Regions from separate parts of the Homo sapiens genome. Here regions 1 and 3 are each linked to region 2. The links come from fine-mapping of genetic effects on gene expression. A gene starts in region 2. Each other region holds a variant in brackets. All regions are shown on one strand. Distances are between the middles of the regions.

Region 1 (2,684 bases), 160 kb before region 2:
TTTCCCAAGGTGGACCAGAGGGTAAGAAGCACCAGGGGAGTGCTTTAGGCCAACAGAGGTGAAGTCCATTTATGAACTTAGCCAATTGTGTTTTAATTATTCCATTGGTCCTTTCCGCCAGCTCTGAGGACTGGGGATGGTAGGCACAATGGAAATGTTGAAATATGGGCCAAATTTCACAAATATTTTGAATAACTTGACCAGGAAAATGAGTTCTTCTATCACGTAAAGTTCACAGTGGACTCCCCACAGTGGAATAATTTTTTCTAATAAAGTTTTCCAACTGCCATCGCTGTTGCTTGCCTGCAGGGAAAAGCTTCAACCCAATGGGAAAACATGCAGACCATTACTAAGACATGTAACCTTGAGAGGATGGCGGCTGGATAAAATCAAGCTGCCATACCTCAAAAGGTCCAGCTGGAAGGGGAAAATGACCCTGGGCCTCATGGAGGAGCTTCCGTGGATTATCCTTAGGACAAATAGCACACTGGGAATAAACCTTTTGTGCCACTGTGGAGGATCGTTTCCAGTAACATTGTTTACACTAGGATATACTTTTATCTGGATTCCATCGTGTCAGATTATTAACACATTCCTTAAGGGGCACCTGACATCCCATTGGAATAATGGTTTATTATTAAGTCCATACAATATTTTAGTTTCAGGAGACAGGTATTCCCCTGTCTGTTTCCAAGTGGATTTCTCTTTTGTTGGGGCTATACTCTAGGTTTCCTTCAACATGTTTTTAAGTGTTTCAGGCTTTATGATCATTTTTTTGGATTGGGTCTGGTGGCTTGAATGCTGCTTTTTCAGCTGTAGCAATAGCAAATTTGTTATCTCCACTTTTAGTGGTGTCCAATGTAGAGTGACCTGGGATTTTTACAACTGTCAAAAGTTTTGGTTGAGAATAGTTTCTAACAGCTCTGAGAGTTGGTTGTCCATTTTTTATGGGTTGCCCTGAGGAGGTTAAATATCCTCTCTCCTTTCACATTCCGAAGTCCTGAGCAACTCCAAATGCTTAGCAGGTGTCAGGGTATGTTTGCAGCCTTGTCTTTTGCTAATCGACAAGCTTGAGTCAGGGCAATCAATTTGGCCCCTTCAGCTGATTTGGCTTGAGGAAGAGGACCAGCTTCAACTACCTCTAGTAAAGAGACCACAGCATATCCTGCTCTAAAATTTCCATCCCCATCCTCTTAAATAAGACCCATCTGTATACCATTCTATCTCAGCATTATCCAGTGGCATCTCTTGTAAGTCTGTCCCAGAAGTGAGAAGTTGGTCAGTCATCAGAACATAGTCATGAGGGGTTTCGTCAGAAGGACCAGGCGAGAGAGTGTAAGTTAATTATTTGGAGCATATTATCTCAGTCAAAATGTATAAAATAATCTAAAATTGATTCATTTCGGTTCTGGTGGCATTGCTGGATTTTATCCCAATCCACAACCCTTTGGAATATTGAAGAAATGGTATTTAACAGAGCAGTTGCTCATTCCCACACATCTTTGTGTCTGTGTTCTCGACTTCTGGGGGCTGGTTATTGTAGCTCTATTGGGCCTTCAAGGGTTAAGTCTGCTACAGGGTCTGACCACTGTACTTT[G/C]TCCAGCTATTCCTTAGCTTTAGCTTCCGAGACCAACATGTGTGCCAGCTGTTAGAGGTCTGAATGGCCTGGGTCATAGGTTCTGATAATGAATTCAAATTCTTGGGCAAACTCAATTGGATCTTATGGGGGCCCAGAAATTCTTTATGCCCTGCAACTCAGCCTTTGACCAGCGTTGGTAGACAATCACCGGGGTTCCCCTATGTGTTACCGGTTGTTCCCAAAACAGGGTGATCATGAGAGATGGCCCTGCAGGGTCCCCCTTTTCCACATCTTCCAGATGAGAGGCTGCCACTGGCACTGTCAGGGAATTGTCAGGAGGTAGGGTCTTGGAAGTTAGACTCCCTACTGCCTTCTGTTGAGTGAGTGGTGTACAAGGAGAGGAAGATGTTAAATTAGAACATGCAGGAGAAGGAGGGAACAGATCTGGTCCGGGAAGTTCAGAGAGGTCAGGGGTAAAGTGGGGGTGTAAGTGGAGGTGGGGAGGTGCCACAGGGAAGTAAGGGATTCTGGGGATTTCTTTAAGAGAGATAGAACTTTAGAGAGTCCTTGGTTAGCATTTCTAAGTTGTTTGTTGGCTTATTGTAAGGACATGAGGTGATCTTCCCCCCATTTGCTACTCTCTAGGTACCATTGAAAGTAGCTCTCCCATTCTGGTTGTTTAGTTTTGTGCCTGCGTTTTGCATCCTAGTTCACAGGTACACTAATTTGGGCATCTCAGAAGATCCCCATCTAGGCCTCTGTAGGTTAGAATCTGCCTTGATTATAGTGGTCCACTTGATTAAATATTTGCATGACAATTCACCATAAGTGTTTTTGCATATACCTGGCCAGAGTTTCTAAGGGTGGAACTTTGTGTTCCACAGCTGTGGGGGTTTCAGCCAACTTAAAGGGCTCCTTCCACATAATTTAGAGTTTTCCTTCAGATTTGACCAAGTCGGAGGGTTTGTTGGATCCAAAGTGTGCTGCTTGGGGACCTAGCTTTTCAGGGCCGTTACTCGCTGAACTGGTATCGTGGCTACCTGGCACAGTGTGTCAGGGGCTCAAGGCATGGGAGATCAGCTCCTTATTTGCACCTGCTAGCTGA
Region 2 (2,684 bases):
TAAAACATTAAATTTCAGCTCTTTAGAATTATATGCCTAAATGCTGTTGGGTTTCCAAAGATAGTGGATTTCAACCCAATTTAATTTTAAAAAATGATGTTCACGCTAAACAAATAACTGTGCTGGGGTTGTAAGTAAGATCTAGTTTCTCACTTACAGGAATTTAGTGTCAAGTGGGAAGATGCAGAATGTTCGTAATTAACTACAGTATTACATGAAATAGAATGTGTTACCTGCCAAAATAGAGATCTACAGTGCAAAGAGACAAAAAGGTGAGAACTGGCTTTCACTTAGGAGAGTGAATGAAGCATTTGTGGAGGAAATGGTATCTGAACCGAGCCCCTAAAGGGTAGGTGGATCTTGCCTGTTAAAGAGAAAGAATCTTCTGGGCAGAGAAAATCACATGGGAAAAGAGATAGGCACAAAGATCTCTTGGGAGCAGCTACTTTTCCATATGGACTGGGCAGGGCACGCGAGTGAAGTATGAAGTTCAACTGGAATGTCATTGGGAACAGCCAAGGCCGAGAACTATGGAATAGTTTTGAGCCAGGGGAGATATGATCAGGGCTGTGCTGCAGAGAAAGTGGCTGCAGCAGGGAGCAGTGTGGAGGGCAGGGGGAAGAGATAAGAAGAGAGAGGTGAAGAGTTGGAAACCAGTAAGAAGGACACTTCAGAATGTGACATGAGTGAGAGAGTGGGTTTGGGCTCCTCTGTGGTAAACCTCATTTTGAAACTGGTTTCACTCGCTACCCCTGCAATTTAGGCTTTAAAATAAGACTGTCTTTGGACTTTAGTTTTCTCACCTGTGAAAGGAGAGGGTCGATGCTGGCTCAAGTCGGCCATCTCTGATGGTCTGTGATTCTAAGCATCTTATTTGTCATCTGCTACAAATCCAATTCTGGATGGCTGAGGTCACTTCTCATCCTTAAAATTTGCTAACATGAATTTGGTGTTGTTTGGTGCTGTTTGCAATTGGAAATCCCACTGATATGGCCATGATTTGGGGCAGGATTGGGAAGATGAAATCATTGAGTTGGAGTTTATTCCAATTTGCCTTATTTAAAACTTATTTCAGTTATACCAACTTTTCAAGCATGGCTGAAAAGAGAAAATATATCTTGCTGGGTTTACAAACTCGGGGGACAGGAAGTAGGTTTCCAACTCTGAACATGTGGTAGGTTACTTAGGTTACTTCTTGTAAACACAAGGATTTTACATCAGGGGCAGAGGCCAGATTTCATGACTATAACTGGAAATCTTAGGAAACAGATGAATCATATAACCCATCACTTCAACTGGAAAGCAAATGTATCCTACTATTAGAGTTTATCTCGAAATGCTTTGGGAAATCTCAGGGGGCTGGAGGAACCCTCAGCTCAAGCCATTTGTGGGATGTGTTGGTCCGGCATAGACTCCAGCCAAAAGACCAAATATTGCCTTTTGTTGTTTCCTGGAGGGAAGGATATGGACAACAATGATCTGGCCGTGGGGAAGATTCAAGGGAATAAAAATGAATCATCACCAGCCACCAGGAAGCACCAGGAGCTCTCTAAATGGAATGGAGGCCTCCCATACCTTGGGTGGGTGAGGTAAAACAATAGCTGATGAGGGAGACAGAGGCGGAGATAGGAACACTCAGCTTTACTGAGACTGGCAACCATGGTGAAGGAACTAACCAAAAGAAATATGAGCTTGCTGCTGCCCCGAATTTCAAAAGAAATCACTTCGGGGCTGGTTTCCTGTAGTGTCCCTTAGGGAGGTCATTTTTTTTTTTTCTGAGCCACCCCTGGTGATTTCCTCATCAGCTGCCCCAGCTCTAGTATCCACCATGAGCAATGTCATCTGCATAATAATGTGGAGAATGTAACCAACTATTCACTCCATGTCCAAAAGGGCTCTGTGAACTATGAGGCTACAAAGAGCCTCCAACCAGAAGACTGGAGTGCTAATTGCTGCCCTAGGAAGGAGGGTGGAGGGACATCTGCCCTCCAGTTCAGGTCCTCAGCTGCGGCTTTGGGGGAATTTTAGACACACCCTGCTAGTTGCTGGACCCTGGGACATAGGATTTGAGCTGGATTCTTTCTTGTCTTCTTGTGCTTTTTAAATAATGTAATTAATTAATTACCTTTTTAAAGCATCCTTATATCTCTCCATTTATTTTTGTCTTCTTTAGTGTTTCTAAATAAAGTCTTTTTTTAACCTTTAAAAATTAAGGATATTTTCAAACATACAAAAATTAGAGGATAGTATGATGAACCCACACCACCTAACTTCGATATCTGACCAAGTTTGTTTCACTTATGTCCCTTCCAGTTTTTTTCTAGATATGTAAAAACACATTCGAAGTATCATGTCATCTGTAAAGTCTTCAAAATATATTGCTAGCAGATAAGGAGTTTTAACAAATAACAGTACTACTATTATATGTAACAAAACTAGTAATTTTTTCACCTCACGTAATGCCCAGTGATCCACTTTCTCTTGTTGTCTAAAATGTCTTTTTTGAAGTTGGCTTGAGTTGGAAACCAAGTAAGATCTATACAAAATACACGTTAGTTCCTCTCTTCTTTTCATGCTATTCATTCGTAGAAGAAATCAGATAATAGGTTCTGTAGAATTTCGAGCTTTGGCTTATTGCATTCTTGTGGTGTTTTCCCAAGGAGCCCTTGTGTCCAGATGGTGGT
Region 3 (2,684 bases), 79 kb before region 2:
CTTTTTTATGGCCGCATAGTATTCCATGGTGTATATGTACCACATTTTCTTTATCCACTCTACCATTGATGGCATTTAGGTTGATTCCATGTTTTTGCTATTGTGAATAGTGCTTCAATGAACATATGCGTGCATGTGTCTTTATGATAGAATGATTTATATTCCTTTGGGTATATACCCAGTAATGAGATTTTTGGGTCAGATGTTATTTCTGTTTTTAGGTCTTTGAGAAATCACCACACTTTTCCACAATGGTTGAACTAATTTACACTTCCACCCACATATTATTTGTTTTCATATTATAGTTCTCACCATCTGGTAGATGTATAAGCATTCCTTTTTCTCCACAACCTCACCAGCATCTGTTATTTTTTTGACTTTTTAGTAATAGCCATTCTGACTGGTGTGAGATGGTATCTCATTGTAGTTTTGATTCACGTTTCTCTAATGATCAGTGATGTTGAGCATTTCTTCATATGCTTGTTGACTGCATATATGTCTTCTTTTGAAAAAGTGTCTATTCATGTCCTGTGCCACCTTTTTAATGGGGTTTTTTTTTATTGTAAATTCGTTGAAGTTTCTTATAGATTCTGGATATTAAACCTTTGTCTGATGCATAGTTTGCAAAAATTTTCTCCCATTCTGTAAGTTGTCTGTTTACTCTGTTGATAGTTTCTTTTGCTATGCAAAAGCTCTTAAATAAGGTCCCATTTATCAACTTTTTGCTTTTGTTGCAATGGCCTTTGGCATCTTTGCAATGAAATCTTTGCTCATTCCTAGGCCCAGAATGAGAGGAAGTCAAATTATCTCTGTTTGCAGTTGACATGCTCCTATATCTAGACCCTTTTGGACCCATAGTCTTGGCCCAAAAGCTCCTTTAGCTGATAAACAACTTTAGCAAAGTCTGAGGATACAAAATCAATGTACAAAAATCGCTAGCATTTTTATACACCAACAACAGTCAGCTGAGAGCCAAATCAGTAATGCAATCCCATTCGCAATTGCCACCAAATAATAAAATACCTAAAACTTTGGTATTTCTAGGTGAAATATCTCTACAAGAAGAACTACAAAACACTGCTCATAGAAATTAGAGATGACACAAACAAATGGAAAAACATTCCATGCTCATGGATAGGGAGGCTTATCTTTAGAGCTTTTAAACCCTGTGGCTCTACCCACTAGAAAACTTGGTGCAAAATAAAAGAGAGAATCTCTGGGAGAAGAGAAGAGCTTTGTGAGCTTCCCCGTCCCCAGGCCAAATACACATAGAAGTTTTACCAACCCCGAGATGCTGATGGGACTGAGTCCCTGTTTCATCTGAAGCCTAGACACCTGCTACTATGGTGTCTAAATGTTAGCATTTAGATAGGAGCATGGAAGAACTGGTTATTAGCTATATCATGTTAAATATATTAATGTTTATGTTTATAAATTGCTCATCATAAAATCACAACAAAAGAGGTAAAATCAGTCTTAAAATATATATTTTAAAAATTGCCACTTTGTTTCATCCCAGAATCATGTTTTAAAGACTTGGAATATTTCCACTAGCTAGATTTCTCAGGTCTGTAAAATGTAAAGCATGAGACTCAAAATCCTAACTTACGATCTGCTAGTAATTTGTAGTTCTCTGGCTAGAATAATTAAGTTGTCATGTA[G/C]TTATCAAAAATGATGTAAATTCTTGGCTATTACAGGAATCTTAAAATGATTTAAAAATAACCCTGGAGAAAAGCTTTTTTTAATCTGACATTTACTAGTAGCAATGCTCCTTGCTTTTTGGAATGTCAGGACTCGCCTTGTGTTTTTCTTTTGTTTCCCAAGACTGACTCTATCTACAGTTTACTCTAAAGTTTTCGCTATCAGGTAGAACCATCTTCATCTTGATCTTGTCGATGACCATTGATAATTTTAATATTACTTTCCTATATTAACTGGAGTCTTCTTGTACTGAATGAACATCTTTTAACTCAGCCAACTATGGCTCAGTTGACTATTGTGAGGAGGCAGTTGGGGAGAGTCAGGAGCCCCAGACTAGGTTTCCCAAAAGGCAGGGAATGGGGCAAATAATGAATACAGTAACTGTTTGAACCATTGTCTCCCTTCTAATAAAATGTGTTTTGAGGAATACTAGTGTCATATGATTCTTCAGTTAAAAAAGTCATATGGTCAGTTCAGTTTGTGTAAAACTTTACATGATTTACCTGTCTTGTAATGCACATTAGCACATCTGAGAAATCCCCTAGTAAAATAACCTGGCTTAATATTCTTTAACCCATACTTATTCAAATTTATTTGGCCCTAGGGGCACTTTTTCTTAGGTAATCCTATTCCACTAATGCTTTATGGAGATTGGGCTCCCTGAAAATCATTTGGAGAAGAGTACTGACAGGCATTTGCCATCAAGGATCCAAGATGAAGTAATGTGCAACAAAACAAAGACAGACATAAGGCTAGAAAAGGTCAAAGCTCGTAGGAAGCTTTAAAAAAATGAAAAAGGATGGGAGGAGCCTAAGCTGATAGGTGAAGCACGAGCCTCTTGCTGGGGCAAGGAGCCTAGAGAGGTGAAGAGACTGGGGTCACAGGAAAGGGTTGCTCTGTGGAGTCTAGTAAGGACTCATATTTCCAGCAGCCAAGTTAGATAGCTGCTATTACTGCACCCATCTTACAAATAAGAAAATGGA

The links. PIP is the estimated chance that this variant, and not a neighbour inherited with it, causes the effect. A credible set is the group of variants that fine-mapping cannot tell apart.
Region 1: its variant is the best candidate, but not a certain one, in a credible set for the expression of LINC02319 in whole blood (INTERVAL, PIP 0.66).
Region 3: its variant is the best candidate, but not a certain one, in a credible set for the expression of LINC02319 in whole blood (INTERVAL, PIP 0.62).

The regions. Positions count from the first base shown.
Region 1 is chr14:52,281,632-52,284,315 of GRCh38, reverse strand. No RefSeq gene overlaps it. Among named protein-coding and RNA genes, the nearest start is that of PTGDR, 15 kb to the right of the region's middle. The variant G/C (reference allele first, on the strand shown) is at 1,598.
Region 2 is chr14:52,124,090-52,126,773 of GRCh38, reverse strand. LINC02319 (long intergenic non-protein coding RNA 2319) reads left to right here and starts at 1,277. Exons shown (of 3, transcript NR_187197.1): 1 at 1,277-1,580.
Region 3 is chr14:52,202,970-52,205,653 of GRCh38, reverse strand. No RefSeq gene overlaps it. Among named protein-coding and RNA genes, the nearest start is that of PTGDR, 63 kb to the left of the region's middle. The variant G/C (reference allele first, on the strand shown) is at 1,662.